Linked DNA regions of Homo sapiens. The protein of the gene in region 1 interacts with the protein of each later gene in a pairwise test. Each region holds a gene or a part of one and is shown in the gene's direction. Other genes may lie near its edges. The genes, in order: WDR88 and TYR.

The links.
Region 2: the proteins of WDR88 (region 1) and TYR interact in binary tests that used the Homo sapiens proteins (3 or more experiments, as listed by UniProt).

The regions. Positions count from the first base shown.
Region 1 is NC_000019.10:33,152,818-33,168,577, forward strand, and holds part of WDR88 (WD repeat-containing protein 88), read left to right. Parts: intron 1-3,275; coding exon of another isoform or gene 3,276-3,339; exon of another isoform or gene 3,340-3,363; intron 3,364-3,537; coding exon 3,538-3,725; intron 3,726-6,953; exon of another isoform or gene 6,954-7,596; coding exon 7,597-7,679; exon of another isoform or gene 7,680-7,838; intron 7,839-11,379; coding exon 11,380-11,448; intron 11,449-15,760.
Region 2 is NC_000011.10:89,168,840-89,185,170, forward strand, and holds the start of TYR (tyrosinase precursor), read left to right. Parts: upstream 1-9,035; 5' UTR 9,036-9,114; coding exon 9,115-9,933; intron 9,934-16,331. UniProt on the Homo sapiens protein: This is a copper-containing oxidase that functions in the formation of pigments such as melanins and other polyphenolic compounds. Catalyzes the initial and rate limiting step in the cascade of reactions leading to melanin production from tyrosine.

The DNA.
Region 1 (15,760 bases):
TCTCAAACTCCTGACCTTGTCATCCACCCACCTCGGCCTCCCACAGTGCTGGGATTAAGAACTTCATTCCTTTTGATGACTGAATAGTACTGCATTATAGGTGTACATACCACATTTTGTTTATCTGTTCATCTGTTGATGACCTCTTAGGCTGTTTCTACCTTTTAGTTATTGGGAATAATGCTGCTATGAACACATGTACATGTAACTTTGAGTTCCTGCTTTCAATTCTTTTTATTTTATTTGATTTCGAGACAGAGTCTTGCTCTGTTGCCCAGGCTGGAGTGCAGTGACGTGATCATAGCTCACTGGAGCCTCGGATTCCTAGGCTCAAGTGATCCTCTTGCCTCAACTTCCTGAGTAGCTGAGACTACAGGTGCACACCACCATGCCTGGCTAATTTTTAAGTTTGTTTTTTTTTTTTTTTTGCAGAAACGGGGTCTCATTATGTCTCCCAAGCTAGTCCTGAACTTCTGAGCTCAAGTGATCCTCTCACTTTGGCCTCCCAAAGTTCTGGGATGACAGGTGTGAGCCACTGCACCTGGCCTGTTTTTAATTCTTTACTCTGTATACCCAGGAGTGGAATTGTTGGATCATATGGTAATACTGTGCTTAGCTTTTTCAGGAGTGGGGATCTTGCTTATTAATTTTGCACTGAGAACTGAAAATGATATAGCCCGACCGACATTATGAATTTTTTAAATCCTCTAGCAAGATCAGCTATATCATTTGCAGGGTGCAATCTCGGCTCGCTGCAACCTCCGCCTCCCGGGTTCAAGCAATTCTCCTGCCTCAGCCTCCCGAGTAGGTGGGACTACAGGCGCCCGCCACCATGCCCAACTAATTTTTGTATTTTTAGTAGAGACAGGGTTTCACCACATTGGCCAGGCTGGTCTCAAACTCCTGACCTTGTGATCCACCCACCTCGGCCTCCCAAAGTGCTGGGATTACAGGCATGAGCCACAGTGCCTGGCCACACTGTGGTTTTCATTTACACTGTCATTCATATTGTTTTTCTCCTATAGGTAAAAAGTCATTTCTCTCTTGCTGCTCTGAAGATATTTTTGTTGTCCTTAGTTTTCTGAAGTGTAATTATGTGTCTGGGTGTAGATTTCTTTGGATTTATCCTGTTGGGTTTTACTCAGATTCTTGAATCTGTAGGTTTATATATTTTGCCAAATTTGGTAAAATTTCAGCCATTTAAAAAAATTACTTTTAAAGTTGACTCCATCTTGTCCAGAACTGTACGTGCAGCATAGCCATTTTCCCCAAACTTCTGTACAGGTGAAATGGCCTTCTACGAGAAGTGGGATTTATGTGAAATGAGAGTCCATAGAGATACCTCTGGTTTATTTATTTATTTATTTATGTATTTATTTATTTAGAAATTGCTATGTCTTTTTTTTTACTTTAAGTTCCAGGACACATGTGCAGAATGTGCAGGTTTGTTACATAGGTACACATGTGCCACGGTGGTTTGCTGCATCTATCAACACGTCATCTAGGTTTTAAGCCCCGCATGTGTTAGGTATTTGCCCTAATGCTCTCCCTCCACTTGCCTCCCACCCCCTGACAGGCCTCAGTGTGTGATGTTCCCCTCCCTGTGTCTATGTGTTCTCACTGTTCAACTCCCACTTATGAATGAGAACGTGTGGTGTTTGGTCTTCTGTTCCTGTGTTAGTTTGCTGAGGATGATGTCCCTGCAAAGGACATGATCTCATTCTTTCTCATGGCTGCATAGTATTCCATGGTGTATATGTACCACATTTTCTTTATCCGGTCTATCATTGATGGGCATTTGGGTTGACACGAAGTCTTTGCTATTGTGAATAATGCTGCAATAAACATACGTGTGCATGTGTATTTATAGAAGAATGATTTATAATCCTCTGGGTATACCTCTGGTTTAAACCTCAATGACAGTGTCTGGCTGCTGGGAGAGCTTGCAGTCAAACCTCCATGATATGCCAGCATGGTTCTTAGCTCACCAGGCACTGGGAATTGGTGAGGTTTATCCCGGATGGCCCTGCGAAGTTGACATTTCTTCTCCTTTGGCGTTGCTCAGTTTGTGCCTTTCAAAGAACCAAAATGGGTTCCAAAACTCTGATCTGAGCTCTAGAAAATTGTTTTGCTCAACCTTTTCTTCAGGTCAAATGATTGATTTTATGATCCAGGCTACTCAGAGAAAACTCTGCTTACAAGAGGAGGTGAGAATCACAGGAGAAAGACATTGAGGGTTACAAACAAAAAGTGGCAAAATACAGACAGGCTTTTTATTATTATTATTTTTCTGAAAAAGAAGATGCTTAAAAATTGGAATGAATAACTTCATTTTTTTTCTGAGATAGAGTCTTGCACTGTTGCCCAGGCTGGAGTGCAATGGCACAATCTTGGCTCACTGCAACCTCCACCTCCTGGGTTCAAGTGATTCTCCTGCCTCAGCCTCCAGAGTAGCTGGGACTACAGGCATGTGCCACCATGCCCAGCTAATTTTTATATTTTTTGTAGAGATGGGGTCTTGCTATGTTGCCCAGGCTGGTGTCAAAATCCTGGGCTCAAGCAATCCTTCCACCTAGGCCTCCCAAAGTGCTGGGATTATAGGCATGAGCCACTGCACCCAGCCAAATAACCCACAATTTTATTAATTAAATATACAACACTGAAATATACTTGAATAGCACTGAAGACAAATGAGGATAGGAGTGAGAAAAAGGGAGAGTGAATAGTTGGGGTGGAGAAGCAGAGGAGTAAGTAAGAGAGGGGTGGAACAGGGGGAGACCACGCCTGACATTGTTGGGGGAAAGATGGGGAGCAGGAGAGAGCCTCTGTGTAAGCGCCACCCAGCACCAAGCCCCAAAGGCTGTCTGTCAATCAATCACTCCTGACACCAGCTGCTTTTCCCTCCAGCGCCAAGGGAATACTGCAGAATCTTCCCAAATGAGGGCAATTTGTGCCCCAGTGGACATTTGACAATGTCTGGACTCATGTTTTGTTGTCACAACTGGGTGTGGGGGTTCCTGGCATCTAGCCAGGAGAGGCCAGGGATGCTGCTCCACCTCCTACAGAACACAGGACGGCCCCCACAACTCTGAGTGACCCAGCTCAAAATGTCCACCTTGGTGTGGTTGGCCCAGTGCCGTGGCTCACGCCTGTAATCCCAGCACTACTTTGGGAGGCCAAGGCAGGTGGACCACTAGAGCCTAGGAGTTTGAGAGCAGCCTGGGTAACATAGCGAAACACTGTCTCTATTATTATTTTTCTAAAAATTGGTGCAGTCGAGAAATGCTGGAACAGCGTGACAGTCTGAGCAATTCACATCTGGACCATGGTAGGCAGTGATCAAAGGCATGATGAACATGAGCTCACAGGAGATGCTGACCCCCACTTAGGTATGTCTTCAGGTCCTCTTGGGGCGAAGTGCTAGCATGTGCAGCCCGACCATGAGCTCACAGGAGAAAATACCCCCGGCTTTAGGTATGTCTTCAGGTCCTCCAGGAGCAAAGCGCTAATGTGTGCACCCCACCATCTGTGTTTCAGGGCACATTCCAATGCAATCTCAAACTGCTGTTTTACCTTCAGTGGCCATTTCCTGTGTACAAGCTCCTGGGATAAAAACTTAAAAATATGGAACGTCCACACAGGGGAGTTTCGAAACTGTGGAGCCTGTGTGACTCTGATGCAGGGCCATGAAGGTTCTGTCAGTTCCTGTCACTTTGCCAGAGACAGTGAGTAATTAACATGCAGAAGGCCTCCATTCCTGTGGGAGTGCTGGGCAGAGTTCTCCATGTTCCGTTCAAATGGACAGAGAGGCAATTTCCAATGATGCTGACAGGGAGGGCGGATTCTTCCCCACGAGAACAAAAAACCCAAGAGGGAAGACCACAGGTACCAGTTTACAGTGGTAGAAACTCAGCTCAATGTGGCGTATGCAACCAAAGAAATTGATTAATCCTGTAATGGAAAAGTCCAAGAGCACGTCTGACTTCAGGCATGGATGGGACAAGAGAGTCAATGCTGTTGGGAACCCAACCCTTCCACTCTGTCTTTCAACCTAGCTTCCCTCTGTATCAGCCTTTACCCCCAAGGAGGCAAAGATGGCCGGATGAGGTGCCTTATGCCTGTAATCCCAATGCTTTGGGAGGCCAAGGTGGGAGGACTGCTTGAAGCCAGGAGTTCAAGACCAGCCTGGGCAACACAGCAAGACCCTGTCTCTACAAAAAAATTAAAAAATTAGCTGGGTGTGGTGGTGCACACCTGTAGTCTCAGCTCTTCAAGAGGCTGAGGTGGGAGGATCACTTGAGCCCAGGAGTTTGAGGCTGCAGTGAGCTATGATTGTGCTACTGCACTCCAGCCTGGGCAACAGAGTGAGACCCTGTGTCTAAAAAGAAAAAAAAAAAGGCCAGGCACAATGGCTCATGCCTGTAATCCCAGCACTTTGGGAGGCTGAGGTGGGCGGATCACCTGAGGTCAGGAGTTCAAGATCAGCCTGGCCAACATGGTGAAACCCCATCTCTACTAAAAAATACAAAAATTAGCCAGGTGTGGTGGTGGATGCCTGTAATTCCAGCTATTCGGGAGCCTCAGGCAGGAGAATCGCTTGAACCCGGGAGGCGGAGGCTGCAGTGAGCCAAGATTGCACCACTGCACTCCAGCCTGGGTGACAGAGCGAGACTCTGTCTCAATATATATATATATGTATATATATGTGTATATATATATATATGTATATATATGTGTATATATATATGTATATATGTGTATATATATGTATATATGTGTATATATGTATATATATGTGTATATATATATGTATGTGTATATATGTGTGTGTGTATGTATATATGTATGTATGTGTGTGTGTGTATGTATGTATATATATATATATATATATATATATATATATATATATATATATATATAAAATTAAAGAGGTAAAGAGGACCTTTAGTGGTCCAGCTCAGCCTAGTTCTGGCCCCTGGCAGTCCTGGAGAAAGAGACCTTCTGTCTGATGGTGCCAGAACAAGTCCCAGGGAAGACTCCCATTGGCTCAGCTTGGGACACATGTCCATCTCTTAATGAATCACTTAGGGGGCAACGAAAGCCTCTGATTGGCCAGGTCTGGGTGACTTGCCCACCTGCAGAGCTAGGGTTGGGGTCAGAACCCCCTGATGCAGAGGGACTAAGAGTAGGCAAGGAGTGTTTCCCCACAGGAAATTGGGAGCTGTTGCCAGATAAAGGGACATAGAGGTGAATGGGGGCAGTGACAGGAAGCCACCGCGGCTAGCCAGCTCCAGGGAGGGAAGTGGGTGCTCTTGACACTCAGGAGCCAAACATATGCTCCCCTATCCTGGTGAGAAGTGGGGCTTGCTCTGTGTGTCTGGGGGCCTCAGCTGGCACACATGCCACTGGGGCCTGGCTTGAGAAGCACTAGGGTGCTTCTGGGCAACTTTCCCTCTTCAGCAGCACCCCTTGTCTAAGTCCCACTGTGAGGCACCCTGCCAGCTTCTGTCCTTGGCTTTATGGGGTTCAGAATCACATGCAGTTGAGCCAAAATTGTGCCACTGCGCTCCTACACTCTAGCCTGGGTGACGGAGTGAGACTCTGTCTCAAAAAAAGAAAAAAAGAAAGAAAAAAAAAAGAATCACATGCAGTTAATCATTATTATTCCTGATTCTGTATTTGTGAAGTCACCTACTTGCTGATATTTATTTGTAAACCTAAAGTCAACATTCATGGCACTTTCAAGGTCACTCACAGATGTGAAGAGCAGCAAAAAATCTAAGTCACCTCCCAGCTGAGGTTGGACAAGGCAACACTCTGCCTTCTTGTTTCACCTCCCACGTGGTAAAATGTCCTTTTTGTGGTCTATTTAGTGCCACCATTTTTTTTTGTTGTTGTTTGTTTGTTTTGCTCCCTCTGTTGCCCAGGCTGGAGCGCAGTTGCGCGATCTTGGCTCACTGCAACCTCTGCCTCCTGGGTTCAAGCGATTCTCCTGCTTCAGCCTTCCAAGTAGCTTGGATTACAGGTGCGCACTACCATGCCTGGCTAATTTTTGTATTTTTGGTAGAGATGGGGTTTCGCCATGTTGTCCAGGCTGGTCTTGAACTCCTGTCCTCATGTGATCTGCCTGCCTCAGCCTCCCAAAGTGCTGGGATTACAGACGTGAGCCACCACACCTGGGCTTTCTTTTGCTTTTTGTTAGTGATTTTGCTGTGTAAAATGGCTCCCTTGGCCGTGTGTGGTGGCTCACAGCTTTAATTTCAGTGCTGGGGGGGTGCTGAGGCGGGAGTATTGCTTGAACCCAGGAGTTTGAGATCAGCCTGGGCAACATAGTGAGACCCCATCTCTACCAAAACAAAAAAAAAAAATTTAGCCAGGTGTGCTGGCACCTGCTTGTAGTCCCAGCTACTTGGTAACTGAAGTGGGAGGATTGCTTGAGACCAGGAGTTTGAAGCTGCTGTGAGCTGATTGCATCACTGCACTCTAGCCTGGGTGACAGAGCAAGACCTTATCTCTAAAAATAAATAAATAAATAAATAAATAAATAAATAAATAAATAAATAAATAACAAATAAAATGATCCCTAACCACAGTGCCGAAGTGCTGTTTGCCGTTCCTAAGCGCGAGAGTGCTATGATGGGGAAAATGCATGCATCCATTCAGGCATGAGTTACAGCTGTTGGTTGTGAGTTCAATGTAAACAAATCAACAGTATATATGCAATAAGGTGTCTTTAAACAGAAACACACATAAAACAAAGTTACGTACTGATCAACTGATGAGAATGTGACCAGAGCTCGCAGGAAACTGACCCTGTATTTCCCCTAGGAGCGATGGTTCAGTATTCACTAATTCAGTGTCTGCAAAAACTGCAGAGGCCCCCAACCTTTCTGGCGCCAGGGACAGGTTTCATGGAAGACAACTTTTCCACAAATGGGAGCTGTGGAGGATGGTTTCGGGATGACCCAAGTGTATTACATTTATTGTGCCCTTTATTTTTATTATTATTACATTGTAATATATAGTGAAATAATTATACAAGTCAGCATCATGTAGAATCAGTGGGAGCCCTGAGCTTGTTTTCCTGCAACTAGATGGTCCCATCTGGGGGTGATGGGAGACAGTGACAGATCATCAGGCATTAGATTCTCATAAAGAGTGCACAACCTAATCCCTCGCATCCGCAGTTCACAATAGGGTTCATGCTCCCGTGAGAATCGAATGCTGCAGCTGATCTGACAGGAGGCCGAGCTCAGGTGGTAATACGAGCGATGGGGAGTGGCTGTAAATACAGATGAAGCTTTGGCTTGCTTGCCTACCACTCACTGTCTGCTGGGTGGCCTGGTTCCCAACAGGCCATGGATTGGTACCAGTCTGTGGCCCAGGGACTGGGGACCCCTGTCATAGAACATGACTACTGTAAATGATAAGAATCAGCTGTAATTGGCTTGGGGTCGTGGAGCCACTCCAGGAAGGGGTTTCAGTGTTGTCAGAGTGAGATGAGGTGGTGCCTCGCCAAGGCATCTTCAGCTGGCTTTGGGCTCACTTGGCTTGGAAAGTTGACCCCCATCTCCACCCTTTCATTTTCTGTTGCAGGCTCTTTTCTCATTTCTGGAGGGTTTGATAGGACTGTGGCTATTTGGGATGTAGCAGAAGGCTACCGGAAGCTCTCTTTGAAGGTACATGTGGCCAGCATGAGATTGAGGATCTGAACTTCCCTCCCGAGTCCTTCCTGTGCTCAATGCTGGTTGCTGGGGACACAGCTGTGAGTGACACAGGCCTTGATGCCTCTGTGGGCTGATGAAGGACAGACAGGAAGCCAGCAAACACACCACCGACTGTGAGGAGTGAAATGGAGAAACCACAACAGGGTGACATGATGGGGACAGAGGCGGGGGACCCATCCACATTGCATGGGCAGAGCTTCCTGGAGAAGGAGGTGTTTGAGCTGAGAACAGAAAGGACTACATAAGTGGGGATCTTGAAGAAGAAGGGCAGTCCAGGCAGATGGAACAGCTGATGCAAAAACCCTGAGGTGGGAGTGTCTAAGAACAGCAGAAGTTACTGTGCAGGCCTGGGCACTGTGGCTCACTCCTGTAATCCCAGTACTTTGGGAGGCTGAGGTGGGCGGATCACCTGAGGTCAGGAGTTTGAGACCAGCCTGGCCAACATGGTGAAACCCCCGTCTCTACTAAAAATACAAAAATCAGCCGGGTGTGGTGGTGCAAACCTGTAGTCCCAGCTACTTGGGAGGCTGAGGTGGGAGGATCGCTTGAACCCGGGAGGCGGAGGTTGCACTGGGCCAAGATTGTGCCACTGCACTCCAGCCTGGGCGATAGACTGAGATTCTGTCTCTAACAAAACAAAACAAAACAAAAAACAGAAATTACCTTGAAGAGAGACGCATGCCCTAGTGAGGCATGCACAGAAAGCTTGGGGTTCCAAAATGGGGATGTCAACTGAATGCTCTGGGCTACAAGTGAGAGGATGAGAGGAGCCCCAACTCAGAGTGGCTCTATGATACGGGGATGTGTTATCCAACACAGCAAGAACCCACAATTGCCTCATGCTGTGCCCCTGTTCCCCCAAGGGGCCCCACACCCCAGGATTTCTGCATACTCCCTGGTTTCACGATCTCACTGTCACCTTTGGCTGTGAATGCGTGCATCCCTGATTCTTGGTCTTTCTGTTCCCAGGGACACAAAGTAGACATGTGTCCTTGAGCAGCCCATATTCAGGTCCCTGGGGCTGGTCTATCTGAGCTGTCTTCTCCTAGGACTTGGGGAGACAAAGCGAGTTTCCTCACAGCAAATAAACGGATTAAAATGGAATGTTAAACCTCTCTGTGCTTAAAGTCCCTCTGTCATCTAGGCACAGTGGCTCATGCCTGTAATCCCAGCACTTTGGGAGGCTGAGGCTGGAGGATCATTGGAGGTCAGGAGTTCGAGACCAGCCTGGCCAACATAGTGAAACACCATCTCTACTAAAAATACAAAAATTAGCCAGGTGTGGTCATGCCCACCTGTAGTCCCAGCTACTTGGGAGGCTGAGGCATAAGAATCTCTAGAGCCTGGGAGGCAGAGGCTGCAGTGAGCTGAGATTGCACCACTGGACTCCAGCCTGGGTGACAGAGCCGGTTGTTCTATTCTCTCTCCTCTTCTCTCCTCTTTCTCTGTGCTCCCATCCTCAAATTCCTGTCCTTTAATTACACTAAGCGGTTTAACCTTCCCTCTGATTCCTTTTTCTCTAACCACACTATGGCCTCACTTTCTGCCTCTTTCCATACGGGGAAGGCCAAAGAAGGACAGAGATGCTGGCATAAAGCCCAGACATCATTCAGTGTCTGAGGCAGCAATGGCAGCTATCTGCTCTGAGCTGTTTTTTTTGTTTGTTTTTTTTTGAGACGGGAGTCTCGCTCTGTCGCCCAGGCTAGAGTGCAGTGGCATGATCTTGGCTCACTGCAAGTTCCGCCTCCTGGGTTCACACCATTCTCCTACCTCAGCCTCCTGAGTAGCTGGGACTACAGGTGCCCACCACCATGCCCGGCTAATTTTTTTTTTTTAAATTTTTATTTTTTAGTAGAGATGGTGTTTCACCATGTTAGCCAGGCTGGTCTCGATCTCCTGACCTCGTGATCTATCCGCCTCGGCCTCCCAAAGTGCTGGCATTACAGGCATGGAGCACCGCGCCCGGCCTGCTCTGAGCTCCTATGTACCCAAAGAAAACACCCCACTCCTTCTCTGCTTAAGCCACAGTGGATCGAGTTTGCAGTTATTGGAAGCGAAAAGCCCCCTCACTTACAGGGCCTCTGAGGGGTATTTCCTAGAACAAAGAATGCAAATGAAAACCTGAGACCAGCTGGGAATATAATATTTCTCCCCCAATCTTGCTAAACACCCGAGTACTATTTTAAAAAACCATACACAGTGGCACACACATTTGTAGTCCCAGCTACTCGGGAGGCTGAGGCAGGAGAATCACTTGAGCCCAGGAGGTTGAGGCTGCAGTGAGCTATGATTGAGCTGCTACACTCCAGCCTGGGGGACAGAGTAAGACCCTGTGTCAAATAAAAATAACTAAATAAATAAATATAGAATGGGTAGGGCGCAGTGGCTCATGCCTGTAATCCCAGCACTTTGTGAGGCTGAGGCAGGTGGATCACTTGAGGTCAGGAGTTCGAGACCAGCCTGGCCAACATGGTGAAACTCCATCTCTATTAAAAATACAAACATTAGGTGGGGTGTGGTGGCTCACGCCTGTAATCCCAGCACTTTGGGAGGCCGAGGCAGGCAGATCACGAAGTCAGAAGATCGAGACCATCCTGGCTAACACAGTGAAACCCCGTCTCTACTAAAAATACAAAAAATTAGCCGGGTGTGGTGGCGGGCGCCTGTAGTCCCAGCTACTCGGGAGGCTGAGGCAGGAGAATGGCGTGAACTTGGGAGGCGGAGCTTGCAGTGAGCCGAGATCACACCACTGCACTCCAGCCTGGGTGACAGAGCGAGACTCCGTCTCAAAAAAAAAAAAAATTAGCTGGGCATGGTGATGGGCACCTGTAATCCCAGCTACTTGGCAGGCTGAGGCTGGATAATTGCTTGAACCCAGGAGGTGAAGGTTGCAGTGAGTGGAGATTGCACCATTGCACTCCAGCCTGGGCGACAAGAGCAAAACTCTGTCTCAAAACAAACAAACAAACAAACCCCAAAAAACAACAACAACAAAAAAAATAGAATGTACATATATCACATGTCTTTACACTTTGTATTCCACCCTAAATGTTGTTGATGAAACCGAGGAAGTACAATGAGCTGCTCTGCTCTTTCCTTTTTTTTTTTTTTTTGAGACAGTCTCACTCTGTTGCCCAGGCTGGAGTGCATGATCATGACTCACTGCAGCCTCAACCTCCCCGGGCTCCGGTGACTCTCCCACCTTAGCCTCCTGAGTAGTTGGGATTACAGGCGCATGCCACCATGCTCGGCTAATATTTTGTATTTTTAGTAGAGATGGGGTTTCACTATGTTGCCCGGGCTGGTCTCAAACTCCTAGACTCAAGCAATCTGTCCACCTCAACCTCCCAGAGTACTGAGATTACAGGCATGAGCCACTGCACTCAGCCAGCTACTCTTAAATGTAAGCAACACTGGGTTCTTGACTTTTTGTTGTTTTTTTAGATATGGGACCTCACTCTGTTGCCCAGGCTGAAGTGCAGTGGTGCAATCATGGCTCACTGCAGCTTCCACCTCCTGGGCTCAGGTGACCCTCCCGACTCGGCTTCCCAAAAGGCAGGTTACAGGTGTGAGCCACTACACCCAGCTTGTTTTTGTTGTTCTTTCAAAATTATTTTCTCCACGTTTTCATTAAAATTTGATATTTCTTCAGGGCCATAATGACTGGGTGATGGATGTTGCCATTAGCAACAACAAGAAATGGATCCTGTCTGCTTCCAAGGTAAAAGTGGTCAAGCTTACAATATCGATCACGTTCGCCAGGATTGGTGATAGTGGAAGAGTTATTGCCAAGTATAAAATTCCTGGGTGGGTTCGGTGAGCTGTACCTGACCGGGCCATCGTGTTCACGGAGCTGCCTGGGAATGTGGACAGCATGTCCTTCTATGCGCAAACGCGATGAGTTTGGAGTTTCCAGGTATTTCTGTGTCTGTACCGTTGACATTTGAACTTTGTTGGAAAAAGAGTCTGGCTGGATCAGTGAGCAATGGAGCCAATGGGGGACTTGAAGGGAAAGCATCAACTCATGGATAAGCCTTTGACACTGCCCAAGGTCCGGGGGGGTCTCCCTTTCCTGCAGCACTGCATCTTGAGATTCCCATTCCACTGGCACATAGCAGCCAGCCCAGGATATCCCAACAGCTGTCCTGCAGGTGTGAACCCCGGAGAAGTGGGGACCTACTCCGCCCTCCACCCATATTAGAGCAGCAGTCCCCAACCTTTTTGGCACCAGGGACCAGTTTCGTGGAAGACAATTATTCCATGGTTGGGGGGCGGGGGATGGTTTTGGGATGGTGCAAGAGCATTACATTTATTGTGCACTTTATTATTATTACATTGTAATATATTATGAAATAATTATACAACCCACCATTATGTAGAATCAGTGGGAGCCCTGAGCTTGTTTTCCTGCAACTAGATGGTCCCATCTGGGGGTGATGGGAGACAGTGACAGATCATCAGGCATTAGATTCTCATAAGGAGCACACAGCCTAGATCCCTTGCATGCACAGTTCACAATAGCCTTCGTGCTCCTGTGAGAATCTAATGTGGCCACTGATCTGACAGGAGGTGGAGCTCAGGTGGTAAAGCTAGTGACAGGGAGCAGCTATATATACAGATGAAGCTTCACCCCTGCTCACCTCCTGCTGTGTGGCCCATTTCCTAACAGGCCACAGACTGGGGGGTCGGGGACCCCTTTATTTGAGCATGTCATGTTCTAGGCTAGAGGTTTCTAAATCCAGGAGACTGTGGGAGAGGCGCTGCCTAGCATGATCAACTTTTCAGAGAGCCAACTTGGAATACAAACATATCAGAAAAAAAAAACAACAAACCCATAATAATACAATATATAGCAAAAGATTATATGCCTATATGTTACTACTTTAATATAAAAATAAGAAGTAAAGGTTTACTTGAAATTATACATTATTTTATATTTTTTACTTTTTTGTTCCATGAATATTATTATTTAAGCAAAACAACAGGACTAGTGAACAGCGACAATTAGTAGTAATTAACAGTAGGGCAAATTAAACAAATATGTTTGAGAAAAATATAAAAATATTGGCCAGGTGAAGTGGCTCACGCCTGTAATCCCAGCACTTTGGGAGGCCGAGGCGGGTGGATCACCTGAGGTCAGGAGTCCGAGACCAGCCTGGCCAACGTGGTGAAGCCCCGTCTTTACTAAAAATACAAAACTTAGCCGGGCGTGGTGGCAGGTGCCTGTAATCCCAGCTACTCGGGAGGCTGAGGCAGGAGAATTGCTTGAACCCGGGAGGCAGAGGTTGCAGTGAGCCGAGATCACGAGATCAAGCCATGGCCCTCCAGCCTGGGTGACAAGAGCGAAACTCTGTCTCAAAAAAAAAAAAAAAAAAATTATGTTTCTTTCTATTCTTTGATACAGTACTTTAGTGTTACTTTAAAAAAAATCTTGGCTGGGCATGGTGGCTCATGCCTGTAATCCCAGCACTTTGGGAGGTTAAGGTGGGAGGATCGCTTAAGTCCAGGAGTTGGAGACCAGCCTTGGCAACATAGTGAGACGCTATCTCTACAGAAAAACTTTAAAAAATTAACCGAGTGTGGTGGTGTGTGGCTGTAGTCCCAGCCACTCCAGGTCCAGCTACTTGGGAGGCTGAGGTGGGAGGATGGCTTGAGCCTGGGAGGTCGAGGCTGCAGTGAGTCATGATGGCATCACTGCACTCCAGCCTGGGCCAAACAGTGAGACTGGTTGTGGTCTCAAAAAAAAAAAAAAAAAAAAAAAGCTGGGTGTGGTGGCCACTCACGTCTGTAATCCCAGCACTTTGGGAGGCCAAGGCAGGCAGATAGCTTGAGCTCAGGAGTTTGAGACCAGCCTAGGCAACGTGGCAAAACCCTGTCTCTATAAAAAATTAGCCAAGCATAGTGATATGAGCCTATATTCTCAGTTACTCCAGGCCCAGCTACTTGGGAGGCTGAGATGGGAGGAATGCTTGAGCTTAGGAGGTTGAGGCTGCAGCGGGCTGTGATCATGCCATTATACTCCAGCCTGGGCGACAGAGTGAGACCCTGTCTCTTTAAAAAAAAATTATTGAATATTTAAACTTTTGGCTAGGCGCAGTGGCTCATGCCTGTAATCCTAGCACTTTGGGAGGCAGAGGTGGGAGGTCTGCTTGAGCCCAGGGGTTTGGGACCAGCTTGGGCAACATGGTGAAACCCTGTCTCTACCAGAAATACAAAAAATAGCTAGGAGTGGTGGCGCACACCTGTAGTTCCAGCTACTCACTCAGGAGGCTGAGATGGGAGGATGGTTTGAGCATGGGAGGCAGAGGCTGCAGTGAGCCACAATCATGCCACTACATTCTATCCTGGGTGACAGAGCTAGACCCTGTCTCCAATAAATAAATAATAAATTTTGTAGGTTATATTATATATTCTTAAGATATATAGAGGTAAGACTGTTTAAAAAAGAGAACACAAATAAAATAGGATTGATTAAATACATATTACTTATATTTAATGTAAAGCAGTGACTTCATTCTATGAGGCCAGCACAAGTTGGATACCAAAGCCAAGAACAAACATGACAATAAAAGAAAATTACAGACCAATATCTCATATTAATATAGATGCAAATATGCTCAACATAATATTGGCAAATAAAATCCAACAGTACATTAAAAGGATTATTTACCATGACCAAGTGGGATTTATCCCAGGGATACAGGGTGGCTCAACATAAAATCAATGTAATATATTACATTAATAGAACAAAGGGAAAAAAAACCCTATACAATCATTTCAACTGACACAGAAAAGGCATTTGAAAAAATTCAAAACCCTTTCATTATAATAATAAAAAAACCCAGAAAGCTAGGAATAAAGGGATAATTCCGCAACATGATAAAGAGTGTTTAGAAAAAATCTGCAGCTAACATGATTCTCAGTGGTAAAAGACTAAAATTTTTCTTCCCTAAGATCAGGATCAGGACAAGGATGCCTACTTTCATTGCTACTATTCAATATTGTACTGGAAGTGCTAGCCGGAGCTATCAGACAAGAAAAAGAAATAAAAGGCATCCAAATTGAAAAGGAAGAGGTAAAATTCTCTTCCTTTCCTTCCCTCCCTCCCAACCTTCCTTCCTTCCTTCTCTTCCTTCCTTCCTTCTGTCCTTTCTTTCTTCCTTCCTTCAATCCTTCCTTCCTGCCTTCCCTCCTCTTTTCTCTTCTCTCCTCTCCTCCTCTCTCCTCTCCTCTCTCCTCTCTCTTTCTCTCTTTCTTTCTTTCTAGGGTCTCATTCTGTCACCCAGGCTAGAGTGCAGTGGCACAATCTCGACTCACTGCAACCTCCATCTCCTGGGTTCAAGCAATTCTCCCGGTAGAAACGGGATTTCACCATGTTGTCCAGGCTGGCCTTGAACTCCTGACTTCAAGTGATCTGCCCACCTTGGCCTCTCAAAGTGCTGGGATTACAGGTGTGAGCCACCATGCCCAGCCAAAATGATTTCTTTCTTTTTTTTTTTTTGAGATGGAGTCTTGCTCTGTCACCCAGGCTGGCGTGCAGTGGCATGATCTTGGCTCACTGCAACCTCCATCTTCTGGGTTCAAGCAATTCTCCTGCTTCAGCCTCCCGAGTAGCTGGGATTACAGGCATGTGCCACCATGCTCGGCTAATTTTTGCATTTTTACTAGAGATGGGGTTTCACCATGTTGGCAAGGGTGGTCTTGAACTCCTGACCCCGTGATCCACCCGCCTCGGCCTCCCAAAGTGCTGGGATTACAGGCATGAGCCACCGTGCCCGGCCCCAAAATTATTTCTATTCATAGGTGGCATGATCGTAAATATAGAAAATCCCAAAGAATTAACAAGAAAGCTACTAAAGCTAATAAATGAATTCAACAAAGTTTCAGGGTACAAAATCAACACACAAAAAAGCAGTTGTGTTTCTATACACCAGCAATGAACACTCTGAAAAGGAAGAGCAATTCCATTTACAATGGCATATAAAACAATACTTAGGAATAAATCTAACAAAGGTGGTGAAAGACTGGCACAA
Region 2 (16,331 bases), on another chromosome or scaffold:
TCGTCTGTTGTCGTGCACATGGCTTGGCACAAAAATTAACATTAAATAAACAATTGTTTGATTAAATGAAGGAAGGGAAGTAATGCATATTGTTCTGACACCTTAAAAATAGTCACTGCCTCATATTTTATCTGAACTCTGGATGTGGTACTTCATACTGGGTGTCTAAATAAATGTTTTCTATAATGGTTGTAAATTTGTTCAGAAATAAGAGTGTGAGATGATGAAAAGGAATGTTTCAGGGCAAATTAATCTTGTGAGCAATCAACAGGCCATCAGGTTAAGCGCCACATTAAATAAGCTTAGGAGGATAGGCAGGGCAGGCTGAACTCTAAGGGAGGCACACAAGTTGACATCAGGTATGTTAAAAGACAAATTTAGGCAAATTATACTTAAAAGTTTTATTGAGCAAAGAATGAATTTGTAAATCAGGTAGCCTCCTGAGCCAGAGAAGGCTCAGAGAGACTCCAGTACAGCCACAGAAAATGGAAAGTGAAGTATGGGAAATGGAAGTGAGATACAGAAACAGCTCAATTGGTTATAGCTTGGCATTTGCCTTATTTGAACACGGTTTGAACAGTTGGCCACCTTTGATTGGCCAAAACATGGTGTTTAGCATAAGAGTAGATTACAGTCTGTTTACACATCCAGTTAGGTTTCAGTTTACCTGTAGGGAGATACCTTTAGGCTGAACTTAAAATATGTAAGGAGGCAGCATTAAGCTAAACTTAATTTAACAGGTAAATATCTCTGTAAACCCAAACTTAGTTTGGCAATTTATGTAAGTATTTGGAGAAAGGTGAGTGAGAAATAAGCATGATATTGATAATTTAGGTAAATATGCTTTTCAACCACTGACTTGCGTAACAATATTTGGTGCATCTATTTGAAAAGATATCACTTGAAGCTTAATCACTGAGATTATTTTCTTTTCATCATAGGAGGTATGTTAATTTTGCTAATTTGTTAGAAATTTTAAACTTTTGAGAGTTGAAACTACTTCTTCCGAAATCTGAGTCCCTATCACAATTCACAATTTCTGATTGTCTACTCAAAACCTGTTGTCCTTTGTCTATGCCTAAGCAACTCCTACTGTGCCTGAATGTCTAATTATCTCTATGATACAGAGATTGTAATGCTCAGAATTAGGCCCCTGGGGTAAAGAAGAATCTAAACAAGCAAGGCCTTCTCCCCCTGACGACCCACCTGTCACATGAAGGTCCTCTGGGGAAAAGGAAGGAGGTCAGAGAATGACCTTCCCAGGTCTTATGGCTTGCTTTGGGGAGTTCTGGATTCTATGACCCACTTCGAGGGAGAAAAAGAGGCCAGGGGAAGGGCAGAGAGACCTTCTTGTTTCTGTGGCACTCCCAATCTCCTTCAGCTGAAAATACTCAGCACACCAGGAAGTCATCCTTTGGGGGTATCATGTTCTGAGCTCTGAGATAAGAGAATTACTTTACTGACAGTTTGTGTCATTATTTATATTCAATAAATATTGAAAGCCATGTGCTTTCTCCTAGAGGATCTGTACAGTTTATTGACATTAAAATGAGTTGGTTTTTTAAACTTGTGAAGGTTGTACATTTTAGTTCTACATTTTGGTTCATCAGCTAGTTCTGTTCTGAATTCATCCGAGGTTGTGCTGTCTCTCAGCAGCCATTCTTCAACTCTACAGTTATATTTTCCTGCTAGCCCATTTTCTCCATAACGTGTCTTAGATTATTCTTGCTGTTCTTATAAAGCATATTTTGCTCTTTGGTAATGCTATTTAAATAATTTTAATAGATTTTAATTACAAGTGGTATAGGCATTAAGTGATAGTAAAACTAGTTCTGCATGTAGTAGAATATATGTAATCAGGAAATTGGCTTCCCAGAGATCAATACCCTCTGCCATTAAAATAATTATAGACAGTTCAACTGAAGCAAAAAAAAAATATAAGTCATTCAACATTGTGGCGACCACAATTTTCTTAACACTTCAACAACCTATGAGGATCAGTTTTAGGAGGAGCTTTAGTGCATGATTGAGGTTGTGTCACTTACAAAGAACACTTTGAAACTGGAGCAGAGGGTGGCTAAAGACACATCTGTATTCTAGAAGCCTATCAAAAATGTAGCCAAGTAACTAAAGCTGACATTCAGAACAGATATGAGAATATAGAACATGAAAAGTATGAAGTCTAAAACTAGAAGCAGGATTAGTATAGTCCAAATGCAATCAGCAAGTAAAACTAACATTAGCATGGAAGATAACACAATGAAAATATCTGTGAGACATGGAAGTACGCAGAAAGACATGGCTCTGCAGTTTAGTAGTTGCTTAATCTTAAGCATAAACATCAGGTTATTTAACTATAAAGGGATACAATATGTACCTCACAGTCTTGTTTTGAAGACTGAATCAGAAAAAAATGCATGCAAAATGCCCATCTCAAAGTAGACATCCAATAAATAATGTGGAATGAAAATGACAGTTGAATAAATCCTAGGTAAACACTTGTCTCCTCCTTCTAGCTAGACTTCTACCAAGATTCTGGTATAATTCATCCCTAATTCTGTTCTGTGAGTCTCTTCTCATATTAGGCCTTCTCATCTTCTCTGCTCTATGCTGAATGTATGGATGGGTTCTGCCCTGCATGACACTTCATTCAATGTAAGAGCTAGTCTCATTCATACTTTTACCTTTCCTCCTCTAGCTTTATTTTTCGTGTGTCCGAAATGATACTATGTGATCTTAAAAGTGCATCCATTAGTCTAAAATTTTAAAATTTATTAAATAAGTAATGAATTCATGAGTGCTTATTGTTTATGTTTTTCTGCATGTTTGAAATATTTTAGAACATGTATTTTACAAAATAAGGAAAACAAAAGAAGAAATTGAACTGTTAATTCACTCATCCATCCATTCTCCATCTCCTAAGATATTTTTTAACATGCAATGTTCTAGGCATTTGGTGTGAATCACATTTTTACTCTTAAAGGATTCATGATATAGAAAGGGCATGAGAAATATCAGTAGATTTTATGCATTGTGGTGAGTGCAATGACAAAGGTTAATTGAGGGTAGAATGAGAAAATGCAAGATAGTCCTCCAGCTTATCCTCAGAGAAGGTCTGTAGATCAGAAAATGCTTTCTTGAAGCTATGACACCTGAGATGTATCTTACAGTATGTGTAGAAATTATGCAAGTGAATAAAAGAGAAAAACATTGTTTGTTAAGAGAAAGAACATGTGCTAATTTCTAAATTCTACAGAAGTATGACATCTCAGTGTTATTGCAGAACTTCAGTATCCTAAGGAACAAGGTTTTAATTGGAGAAAAAAAGGCAATTGAGGTTGCTAACATGAGAAGGAGAGACCAATTTAAAACAATGATATTTAATTATATCCAATAAAATACTTATTCCCTAGCTCTCTAGACCAAAAATAGCCTAAAAGTATTGAAAGCATTATAGTGATAAACACTAACAGCACCAATTTATGGTCTTTAATGAAAATGGTGAACATTTATTAAGTACTTAATATGTGTCAGACCTTATATTGAATGTTTAATATCTATTAAATTATTTGAAACTCCAAATAGTCCTGTCTAGTAGAGTTGAGAACACTCAGGTTGTGATAAGTGAAATTACTGAACAAATCTTAAGTATATGCTGATTCTCTTCCTCCTTTTCTCTTGCCATGGGGCCTGAGACTAATAACTGGCAGTCCTTGGATATTACATCAGAGATTCTGACTTCATAACATCAAATTAAGGGTCAGTGACTTATACAATTTGTTTATGCCCCAGGTATTTACCATAAGGTGTTAGGAATAATAGATGTTCAATATTTATTGAACAAATGAGTGAGTGTAAACTTCAAATATAAAGAGATGATGGCTACATATTTTTTTCTTGAACTTCAAACGTGCACACACAAATATAATCATAATGATCATTGACTCACAAATCATAATGTAGGTTGACTAATATCCACTAATTAGCAAAATATTGAACACAAATGCATCAATTTGTCTCCCAAAAGAAATGCACTAAATACACAAAACTTTAGAAGTCTTCACTACAGTTAAAAATATATCATGTTTAGAGGTTGTTAGGTAGCCACATTATTATTCTGAAAATTGAAAAATGAAGGACAAGAATCAAACATTTACCCCGCTTTTCTTGTACAGGGTAACTAAATAGTTCATGAAGAAAGTTATTCTTTACAAAAAAAAGGGGATAACCATTCTTGCAACCTTTAATAAAATACCAAATGTAGGATATACTTATCAGTGAAAATAAAACCATATAAAAGTTTGCTAGAGAATTATGTAATTGAAAGGACAGTCTGACATCACTTCAAGCTGCTGATAAATTTTAAAAACAAATACTGAGAAAACCAGATAATATGGTCCTCTAGTATATCAAAATAAGTATTACTTAACAATGCCTGTGAAGTAATTGTTAAGAAAAGCAATAACAAAATTCAACTTGTATATAATAAAATCTCTAGATCTAACTCCCTGATTGTAGAAAATGCAAGATATTATTATTGAAAATGTATAAAATGATAGAAAATACAGGATAATGAGCATGTTAAATTCATAGAGATAAAAGTTGTTAACCCCGAAATGTGAGAAATCCTTAGGGCAAAAACTCAGTTTCCTCTAAAAATAAATTGCATTTTTTTTTTTTTTTTTTTTTTTTTTGAGACGGAGTCTCGCTCTGTCGTCCAGGCTGGAGTGCAGTGGCGGGATCTCGGCTCACTGCAAGCTCCGCCTCCCGGGTTCACGCCATTCTCCTGCCTCAGCCTCCCAAGTAGCTGGGACTACAGGCGCCCGCCACTACGCCCGGCTAATTTTTTGTATTTTTAGTAGAGACGGGGTTTCACCGTTTTAGCCGGGATGGTCTCGATCTCCTGACCTCGTGATCCGCCCGCCTCGGCCTCCCAAAGTGCTGGGATTACAGGCGTGAGCCACCGCGCCCGGCCGCATTTTTTTTTAAAAAAGGAAACTTATAACTTAATAGAAATTGATAAAATAGATCAACCAAAATGCAGTGTATATACCTGTTTGAATCTTGACAAAAATACTTTTGAGATAATTAAAGTAAATTAACCATAAATTTGATACCTGATATTAAAGAATTATTGTTCTTTTTGTTTGAGATGTGTTTGTGTAAGATACGTGGTTTTGTTTTTATGTTCTTAATTGTTAGCAATATATACCGAAATTAGAGGTAGAATATGCTATCTGAGTTTTGTTTTAAAACATTCCAGAATTTTTAAACTAGTAGAAACAAAACAGAAAAATGCTGGATGTTGAAACTTGGAGGTAAGTAAATGCTAGTTTATTATATTATTTTTTACTGATTTGAGCATATTTCTTTCCACAGTAAATTTTTTTCTTTAAATGGTAGCTACTGATACTGAGATAATTATATTAGTTGTATTTAATAAATGGTAGCTACCATTATAATTGAAAGGAGGGCTGAGAAACAAAGACAGAAAATGGATTCAAACTACTACCAAATAAAAGAGCAAATACCAGTGATCTGAGTGAGGAAAATGAGGAAAATTGACCAGGTTAACACAAGTGAGTGGCTGAATAATCTATACAAATACCAGAAGTAGAGGACCAGTGATTGTGGCTAGTTGATACTCAAACTCAACTTATCTAAAATTGAGCCTATATTCAATTCCCATAAACATTTATCCTCTATTGTTTCTTATTTTAGTTAATGGCACAAGCCAAAAACCTAGCACATAGCCCTAAATCTTCTTTCCCTTCACTTCTTACTGCTCTTGAATTTATCACCTATGTATCTCTCAAATTCATTAACTTATGCCCATCTCAGAGATCATTACTCTAGTCTAAGCAATGTCATGTTTGCCTGGTTTACATCAATAATATCCTAACAGTAATCTCCACATTTAATCTAGCTCCCACCCCACATCTGTTCTCACCTCAGTAGCTTGAGTGAAAAGTTTTAAATTCATGTATCGTTACCCAAAATTTTGCTACAAAGCCTTTATGGACTATGAGCTGGTCCATACACACACCTTCATTCTTATATCACGCCTCTACCATATTGGGGGTTGCAGCCACCTTAACTGTCCTTAAATCCCTTGAATATACCAACCTACTTCCACTTTGGAGACTTTGCACATGCTATTCTCTCTGCCTGGAAAGCTCACACTCCTACTGTTCTCTCTGTCATCAAACAGACTTCTAGTGATCCCTCAAGTGTCACTTGAAATGTCACTTCTCCCATAAAATTATCCCTGACTATCCCTTCTCTTGTGAGACTAGAAAGGCCCTTCTGTCATGTTCCCTAATTTCTCTCTTTAATTTTCTCTTATAGCAACCTAAAAAGTAATTTAATCCAGAAAAAAAGTTATTTAAAGTAATGTAGTTAAAATTATTATTTAAAATCACTAAAATTAAAATAGTATTTTAAGAGGCAATATCCTTCCTGATGATAGAGATTTTTGTTGTGCTTACCATCACATTCCCATCTCTCCCCATGTCTGCAAGTAAATACTTGCAGAGTATTTACTGAACCCCTAATTCTACTTTATAGAGCATTGCAGTAATTTCATGTCAGGTCATACAATAATCTCCCAAAATAGGATAGGACCCTTTCAAATCCCACAACTGAAGATACCTAAAGAATGTACATCTAGAGTCAGGAAGAAAGCACTCTAAATGGGATTTAATATTTAGGAACCCAAGACTGGCAATAAGACTGAAGACTACAACACGTGTAGGCCAGAGGAGACAGTGGCCTATACTGGGGACAAATAAAGAGGTCTGTCCTATTTAAGAAAATCAACCCTGTAAAGGAAATTAATAGGACTAAGTACATTTTAGTAATTCCTCTAAGCAGGCTCTAAAGATTATGAAAAATAGACGGGACAGCAGACACAAAAGCCCTTAAAGAGCATGATGAAGACTTTCTAAGTTATTTCACTGGAAGCCTGATAGTGGGGCAAGTGTAAGGCAAAATTCTTAATTAAATTGAACATGATAAGTTGAATTCTGTCTTCGAGAACATAGAAAAGAATTATGAAATGCCACATGTGGTTACAAGTAATGCAGACCCAAGGCTCCCCAGGGACAAGAAGTCTTGTGTTAATCTCTTTGTGGCTCTGAAAGAAAGAGAGAGAGAAAAGATTAAGCCTCCTTGTGGAGATCATGTGATGACTTCCTGATTCCAGCCAGAGGCAGCATTTCCATGGAAACTTCTCTTCCTCTTCACCCACACACTGCTCCATGTACCTGCAAAGCCTGTTCTGTCTCAAAAAAGTTGTTTGGATGAGCCGTGACTTTTTTTTTTCTTAAATAATGAGACAAACTCCAGAAAAAGAGAAAAAAGCAGAGCAGTCTGACATTCCGGCATCATCGAAATAGTGATGGCTTTTCCTAGAATGCTTCAGCTAAGGACCCAAATACTAATGATCTCCTCAAAGCTTTCACTTTCTTTTACTTTTTCATTAATTTCAGTGGACCCCCAAACTTTAAGTATGGAAGAGGACAAAGAAGGAAGCTTCAGAGGGGCAACTTTGATTTGACTACTCTTTTTGTCACTCTTCAGCTCACAAAAGAGCTCACTTTAGTTCAAAACACAAAGTCTTTAAGCCCCTCCATAGATTGGTCCCAGGTTTAATTTTCTATGATGTGTGGAGGCCTCAGTTTAATGCTCCAACTTGATAGATGAAACACAGTTCCCACCTCTACACATTTCCCCTGTCTCAGGAGTTGTATATATTCTCAGTTGTCTGTCCAACTTATGCCCACTCTTTGAGATATTAATCAAGGCACTCCCTTGATAACACTTGCATATTATTATCAAAATTATGCAATTCTTTCTAATATCAGCCCACAAATACATCTCTTCCATTAAAAGTTTGACTTAATTATCTATACTACTCATTTGAAAACTAACATAGTTAAGTTGTATTTTTAGCCATGAATTTCAGTTTCCCTAGCTCACTATACACAGAGAAGGAACTTTTGAAATAATTGAGATGATCAAAAATATTTGCTGAAGAAATATATTTCTCCTTTTTCATTCACTCACTAATTGAGAATGTCTTTGCACAAAACACATTGCAAAAACATTTTCAAAAAAATTCCTAATTTCTAGAATTGATAGGAAAAACAATATGGCTACAGCATTGGAGAGAGAGAGAAAGGAGAGAGGAGAAAGGAGAGAGAGAGAAAGGAGAGAGGAGAGAGACAGAGGAGAGAGAGAGAGGATAGAGGGGAGAGAGAGAGAGGAGAGAGACAGAGGAGAGAGAGAGAGGATAGAGGGGAGAGAGAGGGAGAGGGAGAGAGAGGGAGAGAGAGGGAGAGAGAGAGAGAGAGAGGGAGAGAGAGAGAGAAAGAGAGAGAGAGGGAGAGAGAGAGAGAGAGCTCTTTAACGTGAGATATCCCCACAATGAAGCAAATCGCCCAGTTATCAAAGTGAGCTATCCTTAGGAGTTGTCAGAAAATGCATCAGGATTATCAGAGAAAAGTATCAGAAAGATTTTTTTTTCTGATACGTTGTATAAAATAAACAAACTGAAATTCAATAACATATAAGGAATTCTGTCTGGGCTCTGAAGACAATCTCTCTCTGCATATTGAGTTCTTCAAACATTGTAGCCTCTTTATGGTCTCTGAGAAATAACTACCTTAAACCCATAATCTTTAATACTTCCTAAACTTTCTTAATAAGAGAAGCTCTATTCCTGACACTACCTCTCATTTGCAAGGTCAAATCATCATTAGTTTTGTAGTCTATTAACTGGGTTTGCTTAGGTCAGGCATTATTATTACTAACCTTATTGTTAATATTCTAACCATAAGAATTAAACTATTAATGGTGAATAGAGTTTTTCACTTTAACATAGGCCTATCCCACTGGTGGGATACGAGCCAATTCGAAAGAAAAGTCAGTCATGTGCTTTTCAGAGGATGAAAGCTTAAGATAAAGACTAAAAGTGTTTGATGCTGGAGGTGGGAGTGGTATTATATAGGTCTCAGCCAAGACATGTGATAATCACTGTAGTAGTAGCTGGAAAGAGAAATCTGTGACTCCAATTAGCCAGTTCCTGCAGACCTTGTGAGGACTAGAGGAAGAATGCTCCTGGCTGTTTTGTACTGCCTGCTGTGGAGTTTCCAGACCTCCGCTGGCCATTTCCCTAGAGCCTGTGTCTCCTCTAAGAACCTGATGGAGAAGGAATGCTGTCCACCGTGGAGCGGGGACAGGAGTCCCTGTGGCCAGCTTTCAGGCAGAGGTTCCTGTCAGAATATCCTTCTGTCCAATGCACCACTTGGGCCTCAATTTCCCTTCACAGGGGTGGATGACCGGGAGTCGTGGCCTTCCGTCTTTTATAATAGGACCTGCCAGTGCTCTGGCAACTTCATGGGATTCAACTGTGGAAACTGCAAGTTTGGCTTTTGGGGACCAAACTGCACAGAGAGACGACTCTTGGTGAGAAGAAACATCTTCGATTTGAGTGCCCCAGAGAAGGACAAATTTTTTGCCTACCTCACTTTAGCAAAGCATACCATCAGCTCAGACTATGTCATCCCCATAGGGACCTATGGCCAAATGAAAAATGGATCAACACCCATGTTTAACGACATCAATATTTATGACCTCTTTGTCTGGATGCATTATTATGTGTCAATGGATGCACTGCTTGGGGGATCTGAAATCTGGAGAGACATTGATTTTGCCCATGAAGCACCAGCTTTTCTGCCTTGGCATAGACTCTTCTTGTTGCGGTGGGAACAAGAAATCCAGAAGCTGACAGGAGATGAAAACTTCACTATTCCATATTGGGACTGGCGGGATGCAGAAAAGTGTGACATTTGCACAGATGAGTACATGGGAGGTCAGCACCCCACAAATCCTAACTTACTCAGCCCAGCATCATTCTTCTCCTCTTGGCAGGTAAGATATGCTAGATATACGATGTCAGAGTAGGGAGGAACCTTAACAATCACTTCTTCAGGCAGGGTATAAACTTCTCACCTGAACACTCATTGCAGCCCCCATCAAGGACAGAAATGGTGCCCTGTTAAGAACTCTCAATGTATCTTGTATTTTTCCTTTATAGCACACTTTAGATATTTGTGTAATTATTTGTTTAATGACTTCTACTAGGTTTCTAAACTGCAATGAACAGAGTACTTGATTCATTATTGCATTTCCCAGAACATAGTATGGTGCCTTTAAAAATGGCAATAGTGCATTATGTATTTTGTGAATTGAATAAATGAGTGAATGAATGAATATCTGGATGATTAAAAAAACAAATGATATACACTAATGTCTCTGAAAAATAAAATTATTATTCACAACAGGATTCATATGGTGTACAAATTAAAAATGCAAATTCCTGGCCTTATCCCAGACTAATTGGTCAGAATCTTCAGGAGAGAGTCCCGAGAAGGCACAATTTACTAAATGTCTATGGTGATTCTTTTAATCAGGAATGTTTGGGAAATAATTATTGGATTAGATCTTCATTTTTGAAAGTATGAAGATCCTGAGGCTTAAACAGGTAAATAATGAAGATGGCTAATATTCATTGAACATCTAGCATGTGCAAACCCCGTGGCAAGTGTTTTTGTGCATTCGTTCATTTCATGCTCTTATCAGTCTTTCCCTATTTTAGAGGTTATAAAGGTATCAGGTAACTTGTATAAGATCATACAGCTAATAAGCAGCAAAAAAAAAATCACATTTATTCTCTAATAGTCCAGCTGTATGACCACTGTATCCTATTTCCAAGGATGTGACTGCTGTGATATCTTTAGCTAAAGGATCTGGTTCATTCTGTCTCACTTTTTCTTTAGGCTGCATTAGAAGTTAGCTTTCTTTCTCAGTCCTTGAAAACTTTAGATAAAATATGAAGCATTACTATTTGGAATTGAATTCCTATTTCATCTATTCTGAATTTTTCATTCTGAATTAGGGGCAAATGGTAACCAAAGAAATATGTGCTTAATTATTTATCATTTTAAAACCATATGTTAAAGGAATGCTTTTCTGCCTGTCTTCCAAAAATTTCTAATACAGCACTTTTGACTAGCAATGCTCTATGAAATTAAGCCCAATATGTGAATGGGATGGGAAGAATCTTGCACTCAATTTCCCACAATCTGCAGTTTTGAAATGTAGATGGCCTTCTCCGCCCAACCAAGTTTGTACCCCATCCCAATGGAGTCTACTGAAGTTCATTTAAAAAATAGCCACTGTATAATTTCTGGTGTTATTAGTCAGCTATTTACCAAATGTAATGGGTTTTGTGCAGGAAAGGCTAGAAAAAATGTGCTTGGAAAAAAATCTATTTCAATAAGCTTTCAGACCTCCTACCTTAATCTATAATGTGCAAACTCTCATCTAGCTCTTATATCCTCTGTTCCTGTTTAAAAAACTGCCAGGATTGGACATGGGATTTTCAGTCAGTTATGATGCTTTATTTAACTATGTGGCTTAACTTGACCCAGAAAGGTTGGAGGACTGTCTAAATTACCAAAATAAGCTGCAACATCCACAGGAAATCTTAATAGATAGATACACATTAATTTTTAATTACATGAGATGTGTAATACCAGATGCTATCCACAACTGTATGAGTATTATTTTCCTAATTACTTATTAATTGTCAAGCAGAACTTTTTCCTTTTTCTCTCTTCATGAATGTGTTCAATTTTAATACTCTCTAGAAAAAAAAAAAAGTGTGTCAAGTCAGTAAGCCCTGAACTGAAATTGATACAATTATCAACTTCAACCTTGTTCTATGATTAAATTGCTGTGTAGAAACAGGTTTCAAAAATAAAATTAGAAAACAGAGTGGAAGGAAGATGACTGAAGAGAAACAAGCAAACCACAGTTTAAGAAAGGTGAAATGAGCATTTGCTGCTCACCTACTATGTTTTAGTAGTGTCAAGGGCTTATTAGTGGCAAAGGTGACAGTCAAACCCCACTCACATTGGCTGTTTCCATTCCTTCACACAGCCTCTCTGGTTACAAAGTCCTTAAAATAGTTAAGATCGATTGCTTACATTGCTTTAATTCAGAGTTCTCAATGTCAAAATCACCTAGGAAGCTTCCAAAAAACCATTTAAAAAGTAAAAATAAAAAACTGTTGCAAGGTTTTTATGCACCTAATTTCTTGCCAGAAATTCAGATTCAGGTGGTCTCCTGTGAGGTTGTAAAGTTCAAGAGTCTTTTTTTTTGGCAGTGGTGCAATCTCCATACGCTGCAACTTCCGCCTCCCAGGTTCAAGTGATTCTTCTGCCTCAGTCTCCCTAGTAGCTGGGACTACAGGGGCCTGCCACCACTCCCAGCTAATTTTTTGTACTTTTAGTAGAGATGGGGTTTCACCCTGTTGGCCAGGCTGCTCTTGAACTCTTGACCTCAAGTGATCTGTCCGCCTCAGACTCCCAAAGTGCTGGGATTGCAGGCCTGAGCCATCAAGCTGGGCCTTCAAGTGTTTGCATTTTTAAACCCTCATTTTGTGATTCTAATGTGCAGCCAGCACTGAGAATCATTGAGTTAATGGAGATTGTTTTGGTATCTTTTTACTTTCACTTTACAAAAACGCATGTTCTGTAATAAACACACCATTAATTTGAATGCCTTTGTCCAAATTGAATGCTTAAATTAAGAACTAGACTATTTGTGTGAGATGAGATCAAATAGTTTCTAGATTGAGTTAAGACCTTCCAAATTAGCTAGGCTGATGCACCTTTCACATAAAGCCTTCTTTTTTTATTGGTTTCAGATATCATTTTACTTGACCCCAAAATTGAGATTTGAGAGATTTGATAGCATTTATTAACTCTGAGCTGAGAGATCTTCAATTTTATTTAGGGTAACCTGTGCATTTTATTAAAAAACTATAGAAAAGCCTAAAATGGTAGGATGATTGTCCAAAGTCACACATCTGAGGACTAAAACCAAGCGGCTCTGACTGCAGTGCTTTTTAAGTCAACAATGTTATTTCTTGTTTATAAGGATCCATTTAGGTTCAGAAGGGGTCAAGTAACCCGCTAATTTCTGGGTGTATAATTTGACATTTGATCACGTTGACTCCCTTAAAATTGTCCTGCCCCAGACAACATAGGCAGACACAGTGATGTAGTCCTTTTAATTTATATCATAATGAAAATATTCTGAGACTTTTACTGATCCACCTCTGTTACTCAGGTAGAGTTGACCCTCTCCCCGTCTTTGTGCTATCATTGTACTTTATACAGATTTGTATCATAGCACTTGTAACTTTTCATTACATGTAGTGGTTTTCCAGCCTGTCTGTATCTGCCAGCCTGTCAGTCGCTCCAAGGTGGTGATCATTTCTAAATATTTTTGTATCCACAGAGCACAGGACTATAATATACACATGGAACAGGCTTTATAAATACATGCTGAATTTAACATCAAAGAAACGTTAGCTCCAATGCTAACATACATAAAATATTAAACTCTGCATGGGTAGATTTCTAGGACCATTCACTGCAGTTTTTTTATAGCACTGGATTCCCAATGCCAAGGATACAACAATGTCAACAATAGCCACTTACTCAAATTTGGGTATAATATATCTTGTGTCGTTCTCTCTGGTAGTTCCATATGTATGTCTGCGTGTGTGCATGCAAAGAAAGACAATACAAGAGAGAAGATGAAGCAAGGTGCAACATAGCTGAGTGTGATTTAAATGAAGTTAATATTTATTGGTCAGAGTTTTCTGTTAAATATGTTAAAATCAGGTAATTAATTTATTTGGAAATATTGTGTTCCTAATTCATGTCTGTTGTTTGCTCATTTATTTAACTCCCAAAGCTTTAAATTAGGGGCCATGTTTATCATCAATTAAAATAGTTCATTATATTTGGAGGTGGAGGGTTGCTTAATAACATTTAAGTACAAACTACCCATGCTCAATATAATTAGATCTAATGTTATGCAACCAACAGATCAGCTAGCTACAAAAATAAAAGGGGTATCAGGAATAGGTGTCATCATGAACAGAAACAAAGAGGAAAAAACATTTCCTAGCTGATACACATGAGTGAATTGTGACCAGGGAATTCACTCATCAGGTGAAAAGCACATCACATGGAAGCAAAGAGAAGAAAAAAAGTCACATTTCAGCAGAGAGTCATGGGTTTTAGGTAACCATGACGACAGCTCAGTGAAATAACAGCTTCTCTTTTTTCTTTATGAAAAAGATTTTGTGGAATGTCATACGGTTTACATTTTTTCCCCCAGATAAACCTCTAATGCTATAACAAAATCTTTGCTCCCAAAAGCTTTTAATATCTGGCAGTTTATTGCTATTTCTTTAAATTTAAGAGAACAGTATTTAGGTTCACCTTCCTCATTAATATATCTATTTCTTCTATCTCCCCTTTTTTCTTTGACTTGGAACACTTGATCGTCCCCCCAGCATATGTTATAAATCACTTGCGTTGAAATAGAAAAAAAACAGAGTCATCATCAGAACATCCAGGCTCAAATTCTACCCCTGCCATTTAGTAGACGACATTGGACCAGTTATTTAAAATCTTTGACCTTTGTTTTTTCCAAAGAGAAAAAAAATGAGGTAGAATTACCATCTATACATGTTTTGTGTGTGTGCTAATAGGAGGATTAAATGGAATGGGAAACAGAATAATGTAGTGGAAAGAGTATAGTCTTTTCAGTCACATCAGCATGAATTTGAGTGAACTTTCATACTTACTTAGCTACAAGACCCTAAGTTACTTAATTATTCTGAGACGATTTTTGTCCCTAAAATTAGAATAATATAGGTTAAAGCATTACTGTGAAGGGATTCAATAAGATGTGTTTATATGGCTTGTTTAGGATCTGACCTATTGTTTGAGTTTCATGTGTGGAAATAATATATTTTTAAATGATACATCAAAGTTAGATATAATAATGAATATTCAAACAGTGTTATACACCCAAAGTTAAAAACAATTTGGTGACCTGCCCAATGGTCTTGTTTTCAAAAATAATTATGATAGTTGTCATTATTAAACACTTTACACTTGGCACTATGCTAAGTGCTTTATACATGTTAGATTATTTGATCATTGATAGAAACGTATAATTCCCATTTACAGATGAAAAAACTTAATACCCAGAGAGCTTAAGTAACTTGCCCAAGGCCATGTAACTAATAGGGTCAGTATTGGAAACCAGGTCTTTCTGACTAGAATCTTCATGATCATAAGCACAATGCTAATATAATTTCTCCTAGCCTGCCTCCTCTCCTGTATGCAGTGTAAAGACTAAGGTTTGGAGTTTTTCAAATTATTTCTGGAACCAGGGTAGATTTTCTCCTCGTTAGTAATACCTCCAGTCATCCGAACACTTAGTCACTTGGCAGTTGGCATTTCAGCAAAAATAGTTTCATTCAAGCCTCTCTAATTTAACTGAGTTGGCTGTAGGAGTCTTTAAGGCAGCAGGATCTTTTGAAAATATCCTGAGATTACTCAAAGAGGAATAAAAATGATTTAGTCTACATACTTGTAGCGTCCAGTTAACCCAAATTATAAAAGCATCCAACATATTACATTCAATGTAAAAGTTAGGTTAGTTTTATTCAACCATTCCTAAGCCATTAACACGTCATAATTAATGTAGTGGGTATTGCTTCAGAATAAGGAAACTTGTGTTTCAGTGCTTTGGTTTTGACTCTAAATATCATATGGCCCTAAGACAAGTCACTCAACAGTTCTAGTTCTCAATTATATATGGATAAAAGGATTTAGGAACGTTATGAGGTATAAGGCAAACTAGAAACTGGCATTTGTTGAAACAGAAATTATTTGTTGAATAGTTTCTTTTCGTATATTATGTCATAGTACAGTTTAAAAAAATTGAGATTTAGCAAGTCTAAAAAACATGTTCATTGCCAGTAAGAAAATTAGCCAGAATTGAAGTTGCATCTACCTGTATTACGGAGCCCAATTTTTTCTCTACCACACAATGCATAAATTCTTAAGTTATGTCTTAGTGACCAAAAATTAAGAGTAGGTTCTCTAAGCATTTCTTATCTAACACAGTAGCAGCCATCTATGGTGGGGGGACTGCCCATTCAATTCTATTTGAGATGACTACATTTGTTTATACATGCTTATAGATAGCAAATTCAGTGGGATAGGAGGACCAATAAAATAGTCTTGATTATTTTCAAATGTGATGCAAACAGTTGACCGGGAAGACATTTTACCTTCAAATTATTATTCTATACGTCTCGCCTACTGTTCACAAAATTATAAATCATAACATGGGTCTTTATATCCCGTTAGCCTTTTGTAGTCTTCCAC